Linked DNA regions of Homo sapiens. The protein of the gene in region 2 interacts with the protein of the main gene of each other region in a pairwise test. Each region holds a gene or a part of one and is shown on either strand. Other genes may lie near its edges. The genes, in order: TAS2R10, HERPUD2, NAF1 and EFNA5.

Region 1 (5,805 bases), on a different chromosome or scaffold from region 2:
ATATTTATTTCATCAGTGTTTTGATCCCATATCCCTCAACTAGACCCTTGTTTCCCTAACTATATTTCACAGAACTACATCTACTCCTCTGACTACTTGCTACACATCGTACACCAGTAAAAAAGGATGTTAGATTCTAAAAAATGAAAAAAAAACCTTTAAATAATTAAAATAGCATTCTGTAAAGAAGTACCACCATCTATCCTCACTTCCATGTTCTAAATGTCAAGATTGATCTAATTTTCTTTCTTTCTTTTTTTTCCTTTGGGTTTTCTGGGAGAATGGGTGTCCTTGCTTCAGAAAAGTCAGGTAAAGCACAACAAGAAGTTTTATTTTAGAGCTTATTCTCACCGTTATAATCTTTACAGCGAATAGTCTCCAGGCTGATGGTCTTCCTCTAGGAAGTTTGTAGGAAGAAGTTGCAGGGTGGGGAAGCTGACTAAGCCACTGAATTTGCATGTGAGATTAAAATCTCCTCAAAGACTGAGATTCCCTGAAACATAGTCAAAACAATTATGGAAGATTTCAGTGATCTTTAATGACACAGTTAAAAAGACAATGCAAGAATGCAGTGCAATGAAACAGATCTTCAAGGATTTATTCACTGGATTCCTTTCGTGGAACATCCATCTCTTCCCAAGGTGTCTATGTGACTCTGAGATTTTTCCTTTTCTCACAGCACTTCAATTGCTGCAGTACCCTCAAAGAGGCTTGCTTTAGCTTGCTGTTTCCTAGAATTAAGATAAATGAGTGACCCCAGGGATAGATGGCTGTGGTTGTCATTCCAAACATAAGCAGCAGTTTGTTTTCTCGCACAGTAAAACATGATATTTCTATGGCCATGCCTATAAAATACAAGATAAAGAGGATGATGAAAGATATCAAAACTTTCATTGCCTTCACATGAGCTTCTGTGTTGGAGTCTCTCAATCCTGTCACATTCGATTGCATCTGCCTGTTGTGTCTCCAAAGGGAAATGATTAAAAAAATACATGTAATTAGGGATAGTGTAAAGAAGAAAATGACTCCCAGATTTAGCAAAATCTGTTTAATAAAGTATTCACTTTTATACATGTTGAGATCCCAGACTGTGTCATTCTTCGTTTTATAATCATTAAGAATCTTCGCAATGTATGCAAAATTAAGTAACGATGAAATAAGTAAGAATACTATCATGAAGGGAAGAACCATATTTGTTCTGCTCTTCAACCAGAGAAATATGTAGTTGGAAAAATTTGCTATCTTCAGGAAATAGAAGATGCTGAGGCTGGTGGCAAACCACATACTTGATTGATTACCAATTACCCAAAAGTAACTAATATATTCAATTAGGTTACCGGAGGCATATATATTTGGAGAGAATATCTGTATAAATCCATCTGTAATTATTATCCATATCAGAAAAATTCTTGAAATAGCTAAGCCGGTGAGAATAAAGCCAATCGTAGATAACTTATTCTTGGCACAGTCAATGCAGTTTACAAGTCCAATAAATCCATTCCCCAAAACCCCAAACACTGACTCACTAACTACAACAAAAATGAAGATGCCTTCCACTACACGTAGCATATCTGCTAATTCTTAATATTGCTTCTGTTACATCTATCTTAGATTACCTGCTGCAGAATGAGGCATATATTGGCTGCTCGACGGAAGTGTGACTTTCTTCTCTTTCATTATATAAAGACTTGAAATTGCCCCAGTAATGGCTTGAGATGGAATCAGAAATTTCTTAATGAAGACCTTTCCAAATATGTCTACAAAACATAGCTAGTCTGGAGAATGTATGTTCAGACTGAATGCCTATCTATAATTTGTTAAAATGCAAATGAAAGTTTCTGTTTCATGGATTTTACATGTCCTCCTGAGACTATTTTGCATTTAATAAATTGAATTGTGGAGGAGGAGTGCCAAACATATACCTATAGAATGTAATGCAAAACAGAAACAAAAATTTTGACTTTATCTTTTAAAATATCAAATCATTATTTATGTCATTTATAATCAATTTATATATGTACAGAAAATACTATATAGAAATGAAAAACAAATTTAGCCACTGTAGATACTTACTCTAAATGATCGATTTAATTTTTAATTAAAATTTAAGCTCAACTCTAGGTATGACAAGTTTCACAAATATGTCACAAATCTGTTGCTGTTGTTTTATACTTATGGTTATTACACCCTTGAATGCAGAAGATTATGTTGACTACCCTTGACATGAAAGGCTCTTAGGAATAATCTCTTCATTTAACACATTACTGTTTGCTGGCACCCATTCATTTATCCAACAAGTATTTACTGAATGTCTAGATACAACAAGCTCTCTTTTGATCTTTGAGGGAATATAGTGGTAGACAGAATTTCAAAACTTGTGTGATTTATGGAGTGTATATTCTAATGAGGGAGGTGGGAAACAATTAAGTAAATCAACATACTGATCTAAGAATTAAAAGTGAAATTAAAAGTGAAATCTAACATTTATTGAGCTTTTATTATATTCCTAGCGCTATGTTAAGTATCTTTTTCTCATCTTAATTTCACAAGCCTTCAATCCTTTAAAAGAGGGGCTATTTTTGTATTTACATTAAATATGAATAAACTAAGCTTTGGAGAAAAGAAGACCTTCTCTCACTTATCCTGGCATGACTACCATAAATAAAATTGCACAATGATTTCAAAATGAAGTTAAATTAAGCTTAGGAATAGACTACAAATGATAGCAAAACAAAACAAACCAACCAAAAGCAAGTAGAAAACTTAAATTCTCATGGGCTGCACATACTGAAATTGACAGATAAGAATATGTATAGATAAATTAGCTAATGTATACACTGTTTACAAAAAACAAGATGCAATTTCAGAGAAGAGCAGCAAGAGACTGTTAGAAAGAAATTGGAACATTTGGGGAAAAAACTTCTAGAAATGGAGAATATAATTATATAAAATGTAAATGAACTAAATACTCCAAGTAAAAAATTAATAGTAACAAAGAAGAATTTAAAACTCTGACTGTATACTGCTTACAAGAAACACAATTTAAATATAGAAAAGGAAAACTTTAAAGTAAAATTATGGAAAAATAAGCCATGCAAACATCATCCAAAAGAAATCTGGCATAATTATAACAATATTCTATAAAGCAGACTTTAAGGTAAGAAGCAGCATTAGAGAAGAAATGGGGAGTGTACTTTATAGTGATAAAAATGCTCAAATCTACAGAAAGGTAGGGTAATCCCAAAAATTTATGAACCAAATAATCTACCAAACATTTACAGAAAAGGAAAAATAAGACAAATCTACAATCACAATGAAAGACTGTAAAATACATAACTCAATAACTCATCTTAGAAACACCAAAAATCAATAGATGGAAAATACATGAAAAAACAATTGACAAACTTGTGTTCAACGGTAAAATAATTCATATTCTTTTCAAGTGCACATAGACTATTTTTACCAAGACTGATCATGAATCCAAAAGAATATCTCACAAGTGTTGAATGTTCTCTGAATTCAAAGGAATAAAATGAAGTTCAATAATAAAAAGATAACTAGAGAAAGAAACAATTTACTAAGACAAAAAACCTGTAAATACTCTTGAGTCAAAGAAGAAATAACAAAAATTACAAAAATATTTTTAAGTAAATAATACAGGTTGTGTATCCCTTATCTGAAATGTGTGAGACCAGAGAGCTTTGGATTTCGGATTTTTTTTTCTTTTTTTTTAAGTTTTGGAACATTTGCATCATACTGATTAAGCATCTCGAATTCAAAAATTTGAAATCCAAAATGTTCCAATGAGCATATCCTTTGAGCGTCATGTCAGCGCTCAAAGAGTTTCAGATTTTGGAGCATTTCAAATTTCAGATTTTTGGATTAGGGATACTCAACGTGTAATAAAGAAATGACCTATTAAAATTTACATAATCCAATTAAAGCCATTCTTTGAAGGAAATTTGTAGCCTTGAATGCATCTTTTAGAAAGGCAGGGTAAAAACAGATGAATTTTGTTTTCATCTCAAGAAGCTAGAAAGCTAAGAGTGAAAGAAAATAGAAGTCAAGAAATTATAGTAACAGCAGAAATCACCGATAGAAAAGAATTAGGTACAGTAATATACTAATGTTGGTCAAAAGAAAATACAAATTACTACAGTCCTTAGAGATATCAGAAATATGGCCTGGGTGTGGTAGCTAATGCCTGTCATTTCAGCACTTTGGGAGGCCCAGGTGTGAGAATCACTTGAGTCCAGGAGTTTGAGACCAGCCTGGGAAACATAGCAAGACCTTATCTCTACTAAAAAAAATAAATAAATAAAAATAATTTAGCAGGGCATGGTGGTGTGCACCTGTAGTCCCAGCTACTTGGGAGGCCGAGCAGGAGGATTGCCTGAGCCCAGGAGTTTGAACTTGCAGTGAGCTATAATTGGGCCACTGCACTCCAGCCTGGGTGACAGAGTGAGACCTCATCTCTCTCTCTCTCTTTCTCTGTCTCTCTCTCTCTCTCTCTATACATACATATATATACATATATATATATACATATACATATATATATATATATAATACTATATAATATAGTTACATATCCTTGTATATAATCTTTTATTATAAGACAATACTGTGAACAACTTTATACAAAATTTCATCAAGAATACTTATAAGACTATTACAGGCTAATATAGCCTGAACATAGATGCAAAAATTCCAAACAAAATAGAGTCCAGCGATATATAAAAGAATAATTCATTATAACAAATGGAGTTTTAAAAGCCAATTGTGAGATTAAAATGAAATAATTGAAGATACAGTCAATTAACACAAAAGAAAGCCAGAAAAAGGACAGAGGGACAAAAATAAGTGAGATAAATGAAAAACATTGAGCAAAATGCAAGACTTACAGCCAACCATACTGATAATTACATTAAACATGATTTGACTAAACACTCTGATGAAAAGATAGAGATCATCAGAATGAATAAATGAAAGCACAATTAAATGTTATGCCTAGAAGATAAAACATTAAACATAAAGGCACAGATAGATTGAATGTAAAGGAAAGAAAAAGCTATACTATGGAATTTGTAACCATAGAAAGCAGGACTGGTTCTATTCTCAAAGTGGCTATATTATCAAGACAAGTAGTAGAAAAATAGAGGGAAGTTGTATAATGATAAAATATTCAATTTATCAAAAATACTTAACAATCCTGAAGGTGTATCAGACTAATAATTGTGACTCAAAATAAATAAAGCAAAATTAACAGAACTAAAGCAAGTGATAGGCATAGCAAAGATTTAAAAACCCCTTTGCTGTGATCTGCATGTGTCTCCTCCAAAGTCTATATGTTGAAACTTAATTGCCAGTGTGCCAGTATTAAGAGATGGTTCCTTTAGGAGGTAATGAGGGCAGACCTCTCATGAATGAGATTAATGACCATTTTGATGTGCATTCTAGGTATGTTAACTCTACATGCCTTAGATTGTGCAATAGTAACTGGGCTCTTATGAAAGGGTTTTAACAACTTCCACAAGTTCTAGACTAATTTCTGCAGTTACATCAGCAGCAAAAATATTCACAAAAACAATGGTGCCACTGCATTTCAGCCTGGGCGACAGAGTGAGACTCCATCTCAAAACAAACAAACAACAAACAAAAAACATAAAGTAACTGGCTAAATCCATATTATTACAGAGACAAGATTGTTACCTAGAGGAAATAAGTGGTTTTCATTCTATTTTGCTTACTTCTGTTAAATTTCTAACATCCACCTTCTGTAGATCTGAATGAGTGGATTACAAC
Region 2 (7,033 bases):
GTAGGCTGGGGTAGGAGGATCACTTTAGCCCAAGAGGCAGAGAGGTGAGCCAAGGTCGTGCCACTGTCCTCCAACCTGGCAACAGAGGGAGAGACTGTCTCAAAAAAAAAAAACAGAAAAGAAAACAGAAACATTATTAATTTTTTCATGTGCCTAAACTAGGTAAAAAGTAACACTTGGAATTTTTTTTGTTTTTTTTTTTTTTTGGAGATAGAGTCTTGCTCTGTCACCCAGGCTGGAGTACAGTGGCATGAGCTCAGCTCCCAGCAACCTCCGCCTCCCAGGCTTAAGCAATTCTCGTGCCTCAGCCTCCCGAGTAGCTGGGATTACAGGCGCGTGCCACTATGCCCAGCTAATTTTTTTGTATTTTTAGTAGAGACAGGGTTTCTCCATGTTGACCAGGCTGGTCTCGAACTCCTGACCTCAGGTGATCTGCCCATTTCAGCCTCCCAAAGTGCTGAGATTACAGGCATGAGCCACTGTGCCTGGCCGGAAATTTTTTATGCCATTAAAAAACTGCCTCTTCAGTTTAAATATCAATGAATTTAATTTAAATATCAGGGCTGGGTGCAGTGGTTCACGCCTGTAATCCCAGCACTTTGGGAGGCCCAGCTGGGAGGATCACTTGAGGTCAGGAGTTCCAGACCAGTCTGGCCAACATGGTGGAAACCTCATCTCTACTAAAAATACGTGGCAGCAGCAGGTGTGGTGGCAGGTGTGGAAGGCTGAGGCTGGAGAATCGCTTGAACCTGGGAGGCGGAGGTTGCGGTGAGCCAGGGTTGTGCCACTGCACTCCAGCCTGGACAACAGAGCGAGACCCTGTCTCTAAATAAATAAATAAATAAATAAATAAATAACTTAAATATCAGGAAAATCATGTGTTAGACCTAATAACAAATGACAATAATCAACTGAATTTTCAACTAGTTATTTTGGTATTGTAAGCTACAGCATTAGGAAAAGCAGAGACTTTGAGATCTCAACTCAATTTGACTTGTAAAAAGTAATATAATGTTATTTATCCAGCCCTGCTAATATCATTACCTTTTTCTTTTTCTTTTCTTTTTTTTTTGAGACAGAGTCTTACTCTGTCGCCCAGGCTGGAGTGCAGTGGCGCGATCTCAGCTCACTACAAACTCTGCCTCCCAGGTTCATGCCATTCTCCTGCGTCACGTCCCAAGTAGCTGGGACTACAGGTGCCTGCCACCACGCCCGGCTAATTTTTTATATTTTTAGTAGAGACGGGGTTTCACCGTGTTAGCCAGCATGGTCTCGATCTCCTGATCTCATGATCCGCCCACCTCGGCCTCCCAAAGTGCTGGGATTACAGGCGTCAGCGCAGCGCCCGGCCTAACATTATCTTTTAGCTTGATTAAAAACCCATTTCCACCCGGCTAAAACGGTGAAACCCCGTCTCTACTAAAAATACAAAAAATTAGCCGGGCGTAGTGGCGGGCGCCTGTAGTCCCAGCTACTTGGGAGGCTGAGGCAGGAGAATGGCGTGAACCCGGGAGGCGGAGCTTGCAGTGAGCCGAGATCCCGCCACTGCACTCCAGCCTGGGCGACAGAACGACACTCCGTCTCAAAAAAAAAAAAAAAAAAAAAAAAAAACCAAACCCATTTCCAGGCCAGGGGTGGTGGCTCACGCCTGTAATTCCAGCACTTTGGGAGGCTGGGGGGGGGGGGGTGGGGGGGTGGGGGGGGGCGCGAGTCACGAGGTCAGGAGTTCGAGACCAGCCTGGCTAACATGGTGAAACCCCGTCTCTACTGAAAATACAGAAAAATTAGGTGGGCAGGCGCCTGTAATCCCAGCTACTGAGGAGGCTGAGGCAGGACAATCACTTGAACCCAGGAGGCAGAGGTTGCAGTGAGCTGAGATCACGCCACTGCACTCCAGCCCAGACGACAGTGCGAGACTCTGTCTCAAAAAAGCAAACCAAAACAAACCCATTTCTATATTAGTTAGGGTAATGATAGTTGCTATAACAAATCCCAAGATCTCAGTAGCTTAACACAATAAAAGTTCATTCGTTTCTCAATTTAAAAAACATTGCATGGTACCCTTCTAATATAAGAATTCAGAAGACTCAGGGTTCACAAATCTAAACGTACTAGTTAAATTGTCAATTTAAAGATTCTAATGATAAGATACTGGCTCCACAGAGTAACATATAAATATAATTGGCCTCTCCATTACCACCACCACTATTCTTCCTGGTACTCACCCCTACATCCAATAGTCAGCAAATTCTATCAGGTTCACTACTTTCACCACCAATACTTCACCCTAAATGAAGCCTGGTCACAGATGGCAGTGCAGAATCAGCCAAATAATAAGACAAAGAACAAGTTGGAAACATCCTGATGTACTCTGAGTGGCCCAGAAACAGAAATATCCCACTTCAAATAAACAGCTGCTTAACTAGCTGGCCGAGAAAACCTCTGCTACCCACTTAACAGACATTGCTAAAAACCAAGGTGAGGAAAGCTCACTTGCTGGTATAACAGGTTAAAATAAGTCCTAACCTGGACTTTTTTGTTGTTTCTAAAAGGTTTATGTATATGCCATTATTGAAAGTGTCTGACCCTTTAATGTTTAACCAAATATCAGAAACAGATCAAATATCATACATCCTTAACACATTTAAAATATCTCCTGGAGTCTGATAAATGGGTTTAAAGCCAACAATACTTTTATATTTCAAGAAAGTCACCTAGTTAGTATCAAATGATTAAATTTTTTATGTCAAGGATTAAATGGGTCTTTCAATTATGTATGGCTTAAAAATCATGTTCCTAGTATATCCAACTTCAGCATAATCAAATTTCATATGCTAATTTAAAAATATTAATTAAAAATTTTAAAATATCTATCATCTTAATAGTTCAGTAAAGGCAATCTTCAACTTACAGGTTAGTTCAATGAACTATAATCTAGTCCTTTAAAAGTAGTAACTATTAAGTACTTACATATAGTTCAGTCACAAATATCAAATAGCTTTAAAGAGCTGGGTCCCAGGAAGTGCACAAAATATCATTTCTGTGGGAAATGAATTCTGTAAATTTGTACTAGAACACATCTCCTTCCCATTTCCCACTAAAAGCATCCAATCTAAAAACCCTGAAAATTCAGAAACACTATAAATAGAGGCACAGTCACCCAAACTGCCTCTACCCCTTATCTCCTTGCAGTAACAGTAAGCAAAACTGTACCTACAGAATATTACAGAGTAATGTTCTCTGGAACTCCAAAGAGATATTCCCAGCTTAACTGCTTCCACTCATGGGTAGAGATATATGATATTCACACACCAAGTGATGTACACCTCTGATGTTCAATAGAGCCTGTCAAAGTATATGACTATGGTTCACACCAACTGGTAGACTGTGAAGACAGGACAAAGATATGTGCGCTGCAGTCTTAAGATATTATGCATCTAATCTTTCCTATAATTTATCAGAATAAAGAGATATAACCACACATTAAGCTAAGTGTTAGCACCATAGTAAGGCTGTTATCCATTTATCTACAGCCTTTAGACAACAAACCAGCCAAACATATAAATCTCTTTTTATAGCTCAACTGGTTCTTTTTAGTTTACAAGTATATAACTGAGATGGCTGAGTCCCTAAATGCCTTTCTTCATCTTATTATACATAACCATCACATATGATGTGTACAGTAAGTCCAACCTGGGTTCAAATTCTAATTCCACTCCTTAGAGTCTGACCTAAGCAAAAAAAAAAATCACCAAGCCTCGGTTTCTTCATCTATAAAGTAGAGCTAATTATAAACCTTACATCATAAGAAGTCTAGGAGGAATATATGTGATAAAGCATATCAAATGCTTATTATAATGCCTGGTACACATGGCAAACACTTAGTAAATGGCAAAGTCAGAGCAGTTAAATAAAAGCATTCTAGACAATCAAAGCAGAATTTATTATGTTAAAAAAAGAAACTTAAGCTAAAAGTTCTACAAAAATTCTATCTGGAAAGTATTGAGAAATGATTAAACATTACCTTCATAATAATGTTATTATATTTTCCAAAAAGACATAAGGCTACAAATACATTAAGCAATAAAATTTTAGTGAGCAGTCATTCAAAACTTTTAGTCTGTTTTTCATCAACTTTCACATTCGATAGTACCCTTTGTTCAAAAGAGGTTTTAAAATCTTGAACTATATTCCCAGGCGACATGAAACCCTCTTAAATGTATTAAAATCTTATAAGACAATAGTTTTATAAAACAAAAATTATTTTGTTTATGGATTATAGCCCCTTTAAATCAACAATTCCAAAATGGTTAAACAAGTAGACTTTTTAAAATGACCTAAGTAAGGTAATAGGAAATTACAAAACTAAGAGAGATAAAATTTCAAATGATATAAGCTATTTCTACCTGTAATGAAAGTAAGACTTCTGATTGCAGGCAATTTGGTTATGGAGTGTTATAATCTCACAACAGAACCTATATATACAATTGGTTCTATTCTTGCTTCTTTAATTCTAATAGAATCTGAGAGTAAAGGAACAGTTTGAAAAAACAGCACAAACCTGCTTAACTGATCAGGAGAGGTAGATAAGAAAATGACTGCTTTGGTTTAACAGTATGAACAGCAAAGACAGAGGAAATCTGCCCAGAACTGAGGGACACAATCAGAGGTATTTTGACCCCAAGACTGAAAAATGGAGAGCCAAGCCATGCAAGCCCCAAAAAGGTTTGCCTTCAAAACTGAATTCAGAGTGAGTCAGGTCCATCTTAGTGACTGCTTGTTCATGAGAACAGATATAGTAAGAGAATGAGAAAGGTACCTAAGTGGACTTGGATATTCATATTTTTAAAATTTTTCTCTAGGATGATCCATCTATTATCAACCGTTTTGGTATTTACATCTATAATAACTAAGTCTAAACTCAGATTAAAGTCTGAAACTCAAGTAAAAGTGGTCTTCTTGCCAAGTATCTTCACCACCAAACAGCAATTACCTAAATTTTAGAATTATTTCACAGTGCAGCCCAATTTCAGGATCTGAAAAACTAGTCATGAAGTGATGTCAAATGTCATATTACAACTCACAATTATCTATATATTCTGTAATATAAACTAGTGCACTTCCCATTTCCTAAACCAAGTCTTAAACCAATTATCAATATCATTCAAAGTTAACTCCAAAACAGCTCAACTCCACATCCGAGGTTTTTAATTATGACTTTGTGAACATTTTCACAAATATGGCAACTGCCTAAATTCCTAACCAGAAAACACCTTTCCCTTCACAGATCATTAAGGATCTATAATCTTTTTACCTAATACTGTATTACTAAGTAATATACTAATATAAAACAAAGTCATCAGTGCAAACATTAACTCCAAAAGAATAGTTAAGGCCGGGAGTGGTGGCTCATGCCTGTAATCCCAACACTTCGGGAGGCCGAGGTGGGTGGATTACCTGAGGTCAGGACTTTGATACCAGCCTGACCAACATGGTAAAACCCCATCTCTACTAAAAATACAAAATTAGCCGGGCGTGGTGTCACATGCCTGTAATCCCAGCGACTTGGGAGGCTGAGGCAGGAGAATTGCTTGAAGGCGGGAGGCAGAGGTTGCAGTGAGCCGAGATAGCGCCATTGCACTCCAGCCTGGGAAACAAAAGCGAAACTCCGTCTCAAAAAAAAAAAAGAACGGTATAAAAAAGGAAGCTATCAGAGTCTGATTCTTGTCTGCTTAAAACTGTAATCAACTCTTTAAGAAAACTTAAATGTCCCCGTGAATCTTTTCTTGAAACAGCTACACATTCCCCTAACCCCTACTCCAGAGATGATCATTCCCTTCCTGTGTTCCTATGCAACACACAGAACATCCCTCCTGTATAATACTAGTCACATACTATTACGCTTATTTACTTACATGTCACTGGATCTGAGCTTCACAAAAGCAAAGGACTCTTACCATCATCTTCACACTTAGCATAAATATTCAAATGCTAGGCCAATAAAATCCTAGTTATATAAATAAATGAAGACCCAAAAAAATGTGCTTTGAGGGGGAGGGGTACATTTGTTCTAAGTTTGCTAGGGGAGGGAGAAGTGAATTTAATATACCCATATGGAGACTGTGATTAGTCAAATCAATATCTGACCATGAAGCTAGGATCCCAAGATTTTACAACTTCATAGAGTTCAGCCAGAATTCCATTAACAGCATATAGACATATGACCTATCTTTGTAGGATCCTAAAAGGACAATCTCAAATTTCCATTCTTTCCCCTCTAGCAGCACCAATTTATTTTCCTAGAAGCCACTGCCCACAGGAACAAAGTCCCTCCACCTACTCCTGACCCATCAGATCCAATTAGAGCAATGTTGATGAGAGCCATCAACTTTTTACTTACTGGGGCACTCCTGTTCCTACAAAGCACTGGAGCCCTACTCTGCTAAGTCCACACACTGATAATGAAAGTAGGCATATGTGCAAGGAAGATGCACAAGAAATTATCTCTGTTAAACATAACAGCACTTGAAAACTAAAACACAGAATCAATGTTTAGTCATTGCAGGCGGTCAGAAAAACCTAAACTTCCTTTATAATATTACTTAATAGCAAACTGTGCTGAATTCTAAATAATGACCTTACAAAGTAAACTTTTAGGACTCCAACTCCTATGCTGAGGACTACCTATGGCTTTGCGATACCATTAAACTGCTGCTCAACAACTGTGATGCTTCAAATCAATTCTCACGTGATAAGAATGTAAACTTACTAAATCTAGTAACTATACAAAGTTTTCAGTGAAATTCTATGACGATAAACACACATACCCCCACCGCTCCAGAGCTCCACCCACTCAACCTAGAAATGAAAGTCAGACATTACAATTCACTTAAAGAAAACTTGTCAAAGGAGAAAAAAAGGTTTGCCATGTTAATCATTAATAGGCTGCATAGTATTTGGTTTAGCCTCCAAAAGTGTCTCCAGTGTGGCTACAGGAGGCAGGCAGTTTGGGAAGGAGTTCTGTAACAGATCT
Region 3 (7,033 bases), on a different chromosome or scaffold from region 2:
TTTTTTTTTTGGTCTGCACGTCAGAAAATTTTGCTCAATAGCAATTGAAATTTCAATAGCAATTGAAATCAATTTTTTTGGTCTGCACGTCAGAAAATTTTGCTCAATAGCAATTGACTTTTTAATTGACTGCATTTAGAGAAGTAGAAGATGAAATTCAGAGGGTTGAACTTGTTAGGATTCCTATTGAAGTTTTTGGAGTGTTTTTATTATTACAGTTGGAGAAAACTTGTTAATTGTAGAATGGTATTTATTGGCACTCGATAGGTTTGGTTTGCAAAGTTAACTCTTGCAAGGTTATTTCCTCTTATGCTGTAAACATCCTTAGGAGGATGATGTTAGTCTGATTGAAACCTATGACCCAAGAGGAAAGCCTTCTCAGAATTTCAGAATGTAGGCCATATTATCACATTGTTTTTTTTCTACCCCTGCATGTAGTTTTAATTATTAATGCTTTAAAAATATTTAATGGTCACTAATCATAATTCTTATATAACACTTAAATTGATGAGATAGTTTAATGCAAGATTTGAAAAAATAAATTAAAGCCTACAGGCACTCAGGAGCCTTTTTCATGAATGGATTCTGCCAGTCTGAATTATTTCTCTTTTTCTCTACTCATAACAAGAAATTCTCGTCTCGCTTATGCTTTATAACTTGAAGACCTTTGGATTTGTATGCAGCTTCATCAGTGGCTCATATTTTCATGCTACAGATATGTTAATATTTCTTAGTGGTCTTTGTACACAAAGGCTCCCAGCATAACTATTTTCTGAAAGTAGGAGACTTGTTTGGTCTTTCTTGCTTGTCTCTTGATCATTTTTCTACATAATTTCCTTATTAGAATATAATAACGAACAAAGAAAAGACCACAGTACTTCTGTAAATGCATACATATCATTGTCTTACTAGATTTGCAATTCTTACCTTGGGAATTTCTTCCAATTTAATGCAAAGTCTTAGCATATTTGTTTAGGTATTTTTCTGAACAGAATGTCCCTGTTTTCATCAGAAGATCAAAAAGGATTTGTGGCCACAAGGAGTCCAAGAACAAGTTCTTTGAGGACTGAGTTCATATGTGATCCTTGTAATTCCCATAGTCCCCAGTGGAGTGCTTTATAGATAATGGGTTCTCAGGCCAAAGTAATACATGATTATAGAATGAGTGTGTGAATAGGCATTTTATATTTATTAATTCTTTAAGAAATTATTATAGCACACCTGCCATTTGCCAGGTGCTGTAAACAAGACCAGTCCAGTTTCTGCTCTCATAGTGTCTAATGGAGAGACACAGACAGTAAATAAAGTGGAGACAAATAAATTTAATTGCTAAAAATGCTATTGAATTGTGTAAGTGTATGTTTGCCTCGAAAGACAAAATTCCATTTGAATGTTATTAGATTTTCAAACTTGGAATGATGGGTTGGTCTGTTCCTCTCTGTGACCATTTCAATGGATCTTTGGGAATGATGGAAGAGGCAATTATAGTCTTTATTTGGGAAACTTATTAGAAGTCCTTCAGACCACTGTGCTGCTAGAGATAGGTAGAGGAATTGATGAGTTTCCCAGTCTGCCCTAAATCTCTGGCTTACAGGTCTGAAAGAAGATATAAGGACTTCTTCGGGGTTTCAAATCTTAAGTTTGGGGGAAAAGAATGACTTTGTCCTGAGTACTAAGGATAGTGTATAGTTACAGGTATGTAGTGTGTTTAGGAGTCTGCCTCTTTGTCCGTTTCTCAGGGCTGGCAGTTTTACCACTGATAGACTCTTGCATGAAAGTCTTGGAGTTGACTTTTGCTGGCTTATGGTCTGTTAACACAGCCTTGAACAGATCATTGAGGCTAGTGGAATGGGTATTCAGATTGCTTGGCTGTGAGTCACATAGTCACTCCTGTTTGTGTAGGCGAGTGTGTAGGAGAGAGTGAGGAGAGCATGTGTAGGAAAATGAACACTTGAAAGAGCACATGGGCTAGTGCGAGAGGGTGGGAGTGCGTAACAGCCAGTTGACAGAAAGGGAGTGTGAATGTGTATGTATTGTGAGGAGGGTGGGATGTTGGGTGTAATATCAGCCCTATATAAACCACATGGAATGGTTTATCTTTCACAGGAAAGGGAGCTTATATCCATTCCAAAAGGGGATGCTGGGCAGACAGTAACAACGGATTATACTCACTAGAGGGAAAGGGAAATACTTGGAAGTGATATCATGTACGACTTATGTTGGACTCATTGTTAGGAGGAGCAGAGACTCATATTACCTCAGGAGAAATGGAAGTTTATTCGAAAGCAGCTGGGAACTAAGGCAGCTGTGAAGGCTAGTCACACTGTTTCTTTTACATGCCTCTGGATAGTCTCACAGTTCTCTGGCATTTTATTCTTTCATTATTGGTTGGCTTCCTCTGTTTATCTATAGATTTGTTTTTTGGTTTTTTTTTTTGGTGAGGGGGGACAGAGTTTCGCTCTTGTCGCCCAGGCCGGAGCCCAGTGGCCGATCTCGACTCACTGTAACCTCCACCTCCTGGGCTCAAGCTATTCTTCTGCCTCAGCCTCCCAAGTAACTGGAATTACAAGCGCCCACCACCACGCCTTGCTAATTTTTTTATTTTTAGTAGAGACAGGGTTTTGCCATGTTGGCCAGGCTTGTCTCAAACTTCTTACCTCAGGTGATCCACCTGCCTCGGCCTCCCAAAGTGCTGGGATTACAGGCGTGAGCCACCGTGCCTGGACAGATTGATCTTTTTAATTCTAGCTTATACATGGATTTCAGTATCTCTGGCTCTAAAAATGGCATCTTTTGCTTTCAGTGTCCCATGAACTGGCTAATTAGTGTTGTATTTCCTTGCTTGCTTTTGGGACAATTCTGTTATTTAGCTTAGATTTTTTTTTTTTTTTTTTTTTTGGAAAATGACAGTCCATTCTTTCTGGGAAGCATCTCCTCTCCACAACTATTCCTAGCTTGTGTGGTATGTGCCATTTTGTTCAGGCCTCTTGATATGTCACTTAGACTTTTAGGCAGCAGAGGTTGTGTATCTTAGCTAGATGGAGCTTCAAGCTCTATGTGGTCTATTAACTATCTAATGAAATTCTGAAGAAAATTAATGAACTTTTCTGCCAAAAGATATACACAAATTAAAGTGTGCCAAACAGTTAAAACCAATTTTAGAATTTGTGCTGGACCTTCAGGGATCTGGACATAGACATGCCCAATTTAGCCCAGTTTAACCCAATTTTATGTCCAACCACTTTCTAAAGAGTTTTCTAGCAGTTTCCTATTGTCACTCAGGCATGCTTAGCTTAATTTTTACCTCCATTTAGTCTGTGCTTCAAGCAGGAATGTCGCCTCTCTGGATCTATCCCTTTAAATCTTTCCATTGTGGGTTGTTCGATCTCTGCGATCTAACTATGTACAATGCAGATCTTTAGGTAGATGAGAACTACAGTGAAATAACTTTATGATTGTTCTTAAACCTTAGAAAGATATAATTTTTAAAATTAGGTTATAACCAAATCTTGCCATCCCAAGATGTGGTTATAACCCAGTTTTTTGTTTTTGTTTTTGTTTTTGTTTTTTAATGTGAGGGTACGTTAAGGGGGAAGAGAATAAAAGAGGAATTAGCGAGCTATAGTGGCAATGAAAAAGGAGAGTCTTAAGTGGCTCTCTTCATAATGTCACAATTAATAAGTTTAACTAGATAAAATTATTCTTTTAAACATAAATTCTTTTTTAATGCTCAGAAGGTTTATATATAACCTACACAGTCACTGTAAGCAGCATACATATTACAGCTTTGGAACTACGTTGAGCCACATAGGATGTATTTAGTGTTTTGATGAATTGGAAAATTGAGATTCTTTTTAAACAATTTTATCAGCAGTTGATGCTCTGAACTCTTCATTCAAATGTATCAAGTGTAATTAAAAATGTAGGGTCATAAAAATATTTGGGATTATAATTTTTAAAGTCTTAATCAGAAATGAGTTTTATAAATTAGTGCCCATTGTTTTCTGAAAACCTGAAAGGCTTCACATAACATTTAAAAATTATTAGCACAATGTTTATGGAGATAAGAAATGGATAATACTTCAGTAGGGATAATAATGTGTCTTTAGGCATATAATGTAGCATGACCAAGAAAAAAATTAATGCTTATTGGCAATTTTGGGGGAAATTTAGCTGTCATACTTTGGTGACTGCTTATTTTATAAAATAAGTACGTTTGGTAGTTAGGTTGAGTACACTCTATTCTCCTGATTGTGGCAGTGTGGACACATTCTAAAATGTCCTAACGTGAATGTATGGAAATATCTGGACCACTCAAGTGGTTGGAAGTTGCAGTAGAATATTTCATGCCTGTTTGATCTCCCATCATATATGAAATTGTATTGCATCTTGGTCTACACTTAGTAATTATCAATTGAATATATTGTTTTCTAGGCATAAGTTGGTTTATAAATTTTGTCCTGAATGCAGGCCTCTTTTAACTTAGGTTTTTATTACTATATGTATATTTGGAACTATTAAATTCTATTTTAGAATACACTTTGATAGCACTTATTAACATTCTTCCCAAAGTGCTTGTTATTTAAGCAATGGTTTGTATACTTAAGATCATTTTTCATTAATATTCACTAGTGTTCTTCAAAAATAATTAATACTCAGGGTTTTTTAAATTAAAGTTTTATATCTTACAGAATATTTCAATAAAGCTTACATGAGGCATGAATGATTTCATAAACATGAAATAAATACTGTTTTATTCAGTAGAGTATCCATTTATGTCCTGTGTATATACATATATAATTATTATTACACAGAAACATTCAATTGTTTAGATTCCCCCATTCCTCAGTAGTTTCTAATAAGTGAATTCTGCTGATTGCTTTAGAAGATAAAGACAAATATCTGTTAAAGAGCAATGGAACTAGAGAATGAGCATATACACTTTAGCTGAAAGCAAAGTAGCACCAGAGAGTTAATGGTTGAATGTCAGATGAATGGTGTACTGCACATAAGAAGTGATAGGATTGAGTGGAAGGGGAGGTAATAAGGATTTCTGAAAAATTTAGGCTAATACTCTGTGGCATTTTACAATTATTTGGCAGTCTTTTTATCTTAGTGATATAAAATCAGTGTCTTAAAGTTGATGAAATATGCACTCAATTAACATGAAAGATAGGCTTAAAGTTATATTCATTGTTGGAGGTTTCTTATTGAGATGGACTATAGTTTTATATTTAAGCAAATTAAATTTTGAAAGTATTATGAACTTTGTTTCTCTTAACAGTAATTTTAGAGAAAAACAGGATAATAATGTATTCATTTAAAAAAGAAAAATATCAAGACACTTCAAAGAAATGTTGACCCTCATTTTTTAATTGACTTGTCTGAGTCTTAAGTTTAGTGTCATACACAATAGGGTAATTAATGAGGGGACTAATGCTTACTGGTGATAAATAGCTGAGTTTCATGGAAACTTGTAAAATTACTTCCCCTGAAGAAGTTAATGAATTAGAATACATGTTAAGTATGGTCATAGTTGACACAAAGTGTACAGACCTAATCCATTCTTTTTCCAATATGTTTTACCAGCTATAGAGAAAAAAAAAATTCAGTCATGGCTCTCAGTACTCCAGGGATTGGATCCTACTTTCCAACCATATCTGAAAAGTGAAGGCTCACCTAATAGCATCAGGTAATTGGCTGCCACGTGCATGTCCTGTGTTGGGTAATATGAGAAAAGTGGTTAGATAATTTCATCCCACCTTCCTCACTTTTCTCAATTCTCCCCAAACTGACACCAAAAAGGTTTAGTTTTCATTTGGAATGTTTGATTCCTTCTCCCACCAACCTCTGTTGTCCTTTTTCCATATTTGTGAGTGAAAATCCTACTGAAAGTTCTTTATATAATTTTACTTTAGAAAGTCATCAATTTACTGATACTCTTTTTTGCTCAATAAGCCTTCACAAATGCTTGAAAAGTCAACAGTGTTGTAAATTATAAATGTTACCTTTTCAGAGGGCCACTTTTGACATATTAGCTTCTTCCATTTTTGCATTGAAAGTTTTAGGCACCCATTTTTTGACTGGTATGTCTATAACCTCATTTTTAATAGGATGGATTTTTAATGTTATGTGGTACTCTTTTGAATATTTTGCTTAACTGAATAACCTTGTAGACCATACAGATGTTAGAAAATTAAAATATAATAATCTTACAAAACAGACAATAATTGCTCTTTCATGGATATTCCAGAAGTGTGGTTAGGATCTTGCATTTCTTTAATGCCATCGTTACGAGTATCTGTTATCACAGAAGCACAGTAATTTTTTTATTGGGATCTAGTATATAATTTCTGTATTAATGTGTTGTCTTTTTGATTACATGCAGTTGGACATTTAAATTGTCGTTAGCCATTTGTGTAACTGTTTAGAACTTGTGCTCAGTTTCCTTACTATTCGTAGGTAAGAAAAATGAAACCAGAAAGAAAGAGACTTGTCTGAAGTCATATTAGTGGGGAGGAGCAGATCTGAACTGGTAATAGATACATTCCAAACTGCTGTGTTTTTAGTATTTGTGGAGACCTGCATAGCAACGTTGGAATCTGGTCGTTTGGACTTTCTCATTATTTGGTTTCTGAATAATCATGTAGCATATTTTCTCAAAGTGAAGGATGAATGTATCATCTAATGTAAGCTTTTTAAAATTGTATTTGCTTGGATTATATTGCCTCTCAATAAAGCTTTTGACTTGGAACTGTGTAGTGTGTGGGAAATAAATGGTGGAGCTTCTTTAGTATGTTGAATTTTAGTAGTTCATTTGCGAAATGCTGTGGTGTTTGGGGATGTTTATTTCCATGCAAGCTTTTCATTTGCTAATGATGTGAATGAAATAGTTTTCTTCCTTTCCTTTCCTACTCTTTGTTATGTGTAGAAGTATTGAATAAATGAGTCCAGAAAAACTTTTTGCTGTTCTTTGATTTTTTGTTAGTAAACATTTACAAAAATTTCATTTGTATGATAAAATAGTTATTTC
Region 4 (7,033 bases), on a different chromosome or scaffold from region 2:
TGCACAGGAGCTGACGAACCACTGGTGTCACTATGACAATTTGGCATTTTCATCTGGAGTCCATTTAATTTGGGAGGGGTGAGAGAAGCCAAGGGCCAGGGCTGGGGGTGGGGCGGGGTGGGGTGAGGGAGGCAGGAACAAGTTTAGGCCCCCAACCTGAAGTTGTTGCTTAGAATTCAGGCTGAAAGAAAGAAAACAAAAATCTGACATCTGCCAAAACCCAATAACAAGTCCCTTCTTAGGATGAGCAGTTAGGTGGATCTCTGGTGTTCCAAGACCCTGATGTTTTCTGTGACAAGTGATGGGAGGAGACTGTGCTATAATGTCAAAAGCATCGCCAGGAGGAACAGTAGGATTGCCAAAAGGCGGCTGGGTATCCTTGGTGTTTGTGCCGCGTTCTCGCCGCGGGATGGCTCGGCTGACTCATGTACGGTGTCATCTGTTCAAATAGAAAGCACACATTCCAATGAGATTTCACATCCTTAATAACTCTCTTGCAGCAGCCTGCTGTTAACAGACCTCGCCACCCTCTGCAAAGTAGGGTAATGAACCTTGTGCCACCATTGACTTTCATGTCTGCATAATCACTCATTATTTACAGCAAACAAAGAAGAGGCAAAGAAAATTGGACTTTCTCAGCAATATTAATACTTTCCTTAAAAATTGAGGGGAAAAATTATGCATACACCGTAACCTTTGGCCTGTGAGCTGCTTTGGTTAGCCAGCAGTCAGACACGCCTTGCACAAATTTCAGATATCTGAATGTACCTTTGAAACCTAAGATGTCACAGGCAAGCAAGTGACATGTTGGTGGGGGTGGGGGAAGGGGCAGTTATGTTGGCACAGTAGTGGTTAACCAGAATGCGCTGCCCATTTCCCTTCTTTTAGCTGTTTCATAGGATTAGTGTTGAATGCCTGGTTGTTGGATGCCTAGACGAATTTTCAAACATGAAAAACTAAATGCCAAAACAGCAGCATTTTGGATAAACTATACATCATGCCTAGTAAACTTCAATAAACGTATGCCCACTAGTTTGCCTGCAATTAGGTGTCAATTATGGTGCTATTTCTATTACAAACCCTGTATTTCTAAGATTAAATTACTTGAACTTGACTATTTTTATTTTTATCGGGCTGAAGCTTGGCACATAAATTATCAGCGTGGATGCAAATTTTCCTCTAAATAAAATAGATTAAGTGAGTTAAGCTTCTTTTATTTAGCTATAAAGTGTTCTATGAGGCTGCCTCTGACTTTGGATAGCCTTCCTGATCTGCATGATTAACAGGCTTAACTTCCAAATGGGAACTCTGAAGCAATTAGTACCAAAGAGAGGTTGGAGGCTTGCCTAGGAGCCAAGCTCTGCTCCAGGGCTGCCTGTCTTCTTCTTTCCACCTGACCTAACTTATGCTTTTATTTACTTTTAATTAAGTTAAATTAATTAATATTTTTTTAGAGGTAAGGTCTTGCTCTGTTGCTCAGGCTGGAGTACAGTGGCCCAATCATAGCTCACTATAGTCTTGACCTCCTGGGCTCAAGCAATCCTCCTGCCTCAACCTCCCGAGTAGCTGGGACTCCAGGTGTGAACCACGATGCCTGGCTAATTTTAAGAATTTTTAGAGAGACAGGGTTTTCCTTTGCTTCCCAGGCTAGTCTCAAACTCAGCCTCAACCAACTTCCTCCCTTGGCCTCCCAAAGGATTGGGATTATAGACATGAGCCACTATACCTGGCCACTTGTGCTTTTAGACTAAGGATCTCTGAATAACACATTTTGGGGGCCAATAGTGAGCCCCTGTGCAAATTTTATCTCAGCATCAGGGTAACTTCCTGCAGGTGTTCAGCAGTTGCCATCTGGGAATTGCTCAAGGGCCAGACAGAATGGTAACAAGGCTCTAGTGGTTGTTCTCAATTATACTGACCTCAAAGGATAATCCCTAAATACCCCTGGATGACCCACCTCAAACCCCTTAATGGGTTAACTAACCATTATTTTAAACTCATTTGTATTTTCCTACCACACGTGTCACAATAAGGGTGCTTTTCCTTCACTGGGTAGAATCACACTCGCTAATATTTGTCCTAAAGTAACCACTTTTCAGGTTCACAGGCTGACCCCTGCTTCAGATATGCTCGTTTGGGATGGTTTTGTCCATCACATCCATTCCCAATGAGAAAGGTCTTCTCAGTGTTGAGTCTCCTGACCTGGAGTGCTCTTACCATTTTAGCCTCCCCTCGAATAAAAGCTACTGCATCCCCTTGTCAAATGTGCTCCCCTTTCCTGGACCTTAGCGAATCTGCATGGAGTGATTTTAGCTTAGGAGACTAGAAAAGGTTAGGAAGCAAGATGGTAAGATAAATGGATGCAGAAAAAATATATATAAAGTCCTCCACAATGTGGCCAAGTACCTTCAGACCCTCTTCTATTCTCTGCTCTTTTTCAGCCTTGCAAGTGTATTAATTAAATCTGTAGTTAATAGGAAGTAGAAGTAAAGGCCCTTAATAGCCCTGAAATTAAAATCCAAATCACTTTCTTAAGAGCACCAATATGTTGTCAATCAAAACAATGGAGCACTTCAGGCTTAACTGTGAAATAACCACAAACCCTGAGGATTCCAGAGTTCATTTCACAATATCACATACTTAAACACCTGAAATTGCATCAGCTATTGGATTCCTCTCCATCTTATTTTTACTAGCATATTACCCAATCCTTCTCCTTGTATAGCTTGCAAGTGTACTGTTAAAGGTACCCAGCTAGCACTTAGATCTTCGGTGTGAACCCCTTCATCACCACCCTAGTCCCTTCTAGGTACTCAGTGAGGGCTATCCATTATTCCAGGTCCACTCAGCACAAGACACAAGGAATAGATCTTACAAGGTAATGGAGAGGAAGGCTTTTGTTTTTCATCTAAGTGAAGTATGAGGCTAAGTGTGACTTTCAGTCCTTTAACCATACACAATCTTTGGAATTAACCTTTTATAAGCACCCAACGAATATATATCTTCCTGCCCCCCAAAAGGAAATCAGTCCCATTAGGGCATCAGGATCCTTCTCTTCTTCCTGCAACATGCTGTTCCTCATTCAGGATTCCACAAAGCATCCTTTGATTAAAACAGGTTCTCAATGTTGGAAGATTCTACAGCCCCCAAATGTGAAATGAGAAACTGGCTGTCATTTGGGTAAATCTGAGCAATTTCAGAATTCTAAGGAGGAATTCATAGGTAAAATCTATCCCAATGGAAACTACACCTAAACATGAGAGAATTTCTAACGCTTGTAACACAGGCTTGGAAGAAGAAAGAAAACGTTCCTCTTCAGAAGTCAAATCAAGTTTTGCCTCCTGGCTACAGGATTCCACAACATGGGGGTTTCAATGGTTAACGGAGAGAACACTAGCGATATTTTGGAGCATGTTATGTGGCATATGTCTGCCCTGAGATCATCCTGCATCCCTGATGATAGGAAACTGGCAGGCAGAGTGTGCAAGCAAACAAAAAAGACAAATACATTCCAAAGACAGGTGAATTAGTACACATCGCTGAGATCATGCAGTGGAATCCTTTCAGACTTGCTGGGTTCATAAAGACTGGGTCTACACCCAGAGCTGGGGAAAGGTAAATACCCTTTCACTCAGTGGCTCGACACAGTGGTGAAGAACTGCAAATCCAACTAGACTTTCTCTCTCTTCTTAGAGACAGAATCTTGCTCTGTCACCCAGGATGGAGCACAGTGGCGTGATCATAGCTCACTGTAGCCTCGAACTCCTGGGCTTAAGCAATCCTCCCACTTCAGTCTCCCAAGTAACTGAGACTAAAGGCACACACACCACATTTTTTTTTTTTTTTTTTTTTTTTTGGTAAAGACAAGGTTTCACAGTGTTGTCCAGGTTGGTCTCAAACTCTTAGCCTCAAGCAATCCACCCATCTCAGCCTCTCAAATTGCTGGGATTATAGGTGTGAGGCACAGTGCCTCACACCTGTAAGAAACACATTTCTTATTGTTTTCTTATTGCCAGGAATTGTGGTTCAACCTTGTCTCACTTTGTTAGTGAAGATACTCACCAGCAAGCCCTTAAAATATAGCTCTGACTGACTCAAGGAGCTTTTCCTGCATGTACACCTACGCTCTACTCCCCAGCACACGTATGCACACACTGAACTACATTCTGCCAAACTTTTGCAAACTTCCAGCAGTTATATGTCCATCAATTTTGGGCCATTGTGCATTTTAAATGCTTAGTGAAAAAAAACCTTGTTTCCCCAAAGACAGTGGTATATGTTCATGTATGAAAGCATCTCAATATCTTGCATTGTATCGTTAGTGGAATTCAAAGGTAATTTTCCTAATGGCAGAATAGTCCTCCATGTGCCTCTTCATTACCAGAGAAAAATATGCAATCTGTTAGGTGTCTAAGCAGCCTCCTATGCTATAGACAGGCAGTGGAGATTCCCTGGAAAAAAAACCATGGGAAAGATATGCCTACATTCTGCACAATGTGTATCAAGAGATCATAATCCTGGGTAATTTTTGTTTAGAACATGCTGGTCATTCTTCTCGTGGCTTCTTAACAAAGACAAGAGACTTAAGTCCTCTTTATGAACATACCTCTAATAATGGTAAGAGACCACTACTTTGATACTAATGTTGGAATAGGAGTCAGAAGATCTGAGTATTAAACCTGGATCTACCTAATCAGCAATGTGGCATGGGTGAGTCTCCTCAGCCATAGAAGGAAGAGTGTAGAGTCTGGGGTTGTTAAGGGAGATACTGAGTAACTTGCAGATCCTCTGGTGGCCCAAGTCCCTGAGCTTGTGAGGACTCTGGTACCTTAAGAAGCCAAAGTCATGGCTCCAGATTTCCAGGACACAATTAAAATGCCTTCATGTCAGCATTCATTCCTTAAAACTTTCTAAAGCAGCTAACTGATCCCTGGGGAGCCACTAAGACCTCGGAGAGCTCATTGTACACACCTCTCATTTGCGCTCTGGGTGAGATGCCTGCCTTAGAAAACAAGAATGCTTCAGGGAAAAAACTCTAACTCTTCCTGTCAGTTTTAACAGGAAAGCTATTGTATGTCCTGAGGCACAGCATTTACTCAGGGTAAGTTTCCCTAAGGTTCATTGACTATGCAGTCCTGGTTACAATATTGGAGGAAAAAGTGGACCTTAATGTCCGTTAGTTTCTAGGACCATAAGGAAGAGAAATTCTACAAAAAAAAAAAAAAAAAAAAAAATTCTCCATTTACATAAGGGGGCTCAAATCTCTCCATGAAGAGGAAATAATTTTATTTCCCTTAAGCTTTGAGATGATCAAGGGAGATGGGTAAGGAAACCAGTGAAGATCTGGAGCAGGTCGGGGAGAAGAGGACACCACAGAGGAAGGAAACACACAGGGCCTCCAGGCACACCCCTCCATAAGCAGTTGGTAGAGGGCGACCACTCCTCTCAGTTAATCTAGTTTTATTAAATGGCCAGACTGAATTGATAACCGAATGGATATTTACAGGTTCTTATTATCCATAGTATGCGACAGACTAATGCCTCAACGAGTGCTTTGGTAGGTTTTATTTTTCTTTAGTTATGGGAAACATTAGGAGTGTGGAAGTCAATCGTAGAAAAGTTTTATTTATCCTTAAAACTTATTTTGCCTCGGTAATCAAGGATCACATTTGGCTCAACAGGCTACTGGTACATTTGTGGCACAAGAGATGTGCGAATTTGTGGTGGCAATGTGATTATACTTCTCCAGACCAATTACTATTGACAATAGCAAAAATATTTAAATAAAATAAAGTTCCTTAGGTCAGTTCAATGATGCATGTAAATTTCTAGAGAAAACTAAGTATGTTGAATTAGTTTCTATTTTGTGCAATAGTCTTATTACTTTTATCTACAGATTTGGACATAAAAAATAAAATTTTATGAACATATACATAGAAATGTTTTGTGTCTTACATGAAAACAGATCCTTTAATATTCACAGTGATTCACCAGCATGCTCTGAGGATATGGTAAAAGGCAGTGAGATTTTAGCATTCCGATGGGGCTTCTATATTAGGATACTGCATTAGCTCAAACCCATTCCAAAAAAGAAAATTTTATTTTACCTAACATGCATTGCACAAAGATACTGGAGGAATGAGGTAGAATATAAGTCATATTAGCATCGCTAGCAATGAGCAAAAGCAGAACAACAACTATAACATGCAAACATGCAGAGAAGAAGAAAGGAAAAAAATACGGAAGCACCAGAGAAATAGATGCATTTGTTAAAAGAGATTCTCTAAGCATACTAACCTGCTGGTTCTAATGAATTTTCTACTTTGTCGTTAACATCGAAAACACGATCATGAACACCTATAGTTTTCATACAGCTATCTATAACAAAAATAGAGATAACAGCCAAATATGTTAGTGAAGACACCCTTAAACTCCCATTTCTTTCTTTTTTCTTTCTCTCCTTTTTTTCTTTTTTTATGTAGATTGTCTTACAATCAATGGCATGTTCCAAATGCCAATATTGTTCCCATTTGCTCTGCATGTACAACAGTCTAAGAAACAACAAGTTAGCAACTGCTGTGTACTTAAGTAAAAGCATCATGAAGAATGAGAAAAAATATGATGAAAACTAAAATATGAATGTTGATATACAAAACAGATACCACACAAGATTTAACAGTAAAAAAAAGTTTTACCGCCGTGAACCAGACCACACAATAAAGCATGCGCGGTGAAGCCACCCTCTGAAGCTCATTCTAGTGAACTTACTTGTTGGTCTCACAAAGACTTTGAGCTTTAGACAGGACCTTCTTCCATTATCTGGGATTGCAGAGGCTGTGGGTAACACAGAGAGAGAGCAGGAAAGAAAGAAGAGAACAACAACATATTACTCTTCATTTTCACATACAAATGATGAACAATAAATTCTTTCCTGACTTGAACAACAGGAACTTTCTCTAATTCCTCCTCCAAATTAAAACAAACAGTACTTTTCAGGTCTCACTGCTATAGAAAGGCTACTTTCATATCCTGA

What was found.
Region 1: the proteins of HERPUD2 (region 2) and TAS2R10 interact in binary tests that used the Homo sapiens proteins (3 or more experiments, as listed by UniProt).
Region 3: the proteins of HERPUD2 (region 2) and NAF1 interact in binary tests that used the Homo sapiens proteins (3 or more experiments, as listed by UniProt).
Region 4: the proteins of HERPUD2 (region 2) and EFNA5 interact in binary tests that used the Homo sapiens proteins (3 or more experiments, as listed by UniProt).

What each region holds. Positions count from the first base shown.
Region 1 is NC_000012.12:10,824,701-10,830,505, forward strand, and holds TAS2R10 (taste receptor type 2 member 10), read right to left. Parts: upstream 1,659-5,805; 5' UTR 1,570-1,658; coding exon 646-1,569; 3' UTR 519-645; downstream 1-518. UniProt on the Homo sapiens protein: Gustducin-coupled strychnine receptor implicated in the perception of bitter compounds in the oral cavity and the gastrointestinal tract. Signals through PLCB2 and the calcium-regulated cation channel TRPM5.
Region 2 is NC_000007.14:35,685,135-35,692,167, forward strand, and holds part of HERPUD2 (homocysteine-responsive endoplasmic reticulum-resident ubiquitin-like domain member 2 protein), read right to left. Parts: intron 1-7,033. UniProt on the Homo sapiens protein: Could be involved in the unfolded protein response (UPR) pathway.
Region 3 is NC_000004.12:163,156,884-163,163,916, reverse strand, and holds part of NAF1 (H/ACA ribonucleoprotein complex non-core subunit NAF1), read left to right. Parts: intron 1-5,589; exon of another isoform or gene 5,590-5,692; intron 5,693-7,033. UniProt on the Homo sapiens protein: RNA-binding protein required for the maturation of box H/ACA snoRNPs complex and ribosome biogenesis.
Region 4 is NC_000005.10:107,380,938-107,387,970, forward strand, and holds part of EFNA5 (ephrin-A5 isoform 1 precursor), read right to left. Parts: intron 6,835-7,033; coding exon 6,769-6,834; intron 6,379-6,768; coding exon 6,298-6,378; intron 440-6,297; coding exon 318-439; 3' UTR 1-317. UniProt on the Homo sapiens protein: Cell surface GPI-bound ligand for Eph receptors, a family of receptor tyrosine kinases which are crucial for migration, repulsion and adhesion during neuronal, vascular and epithelial development.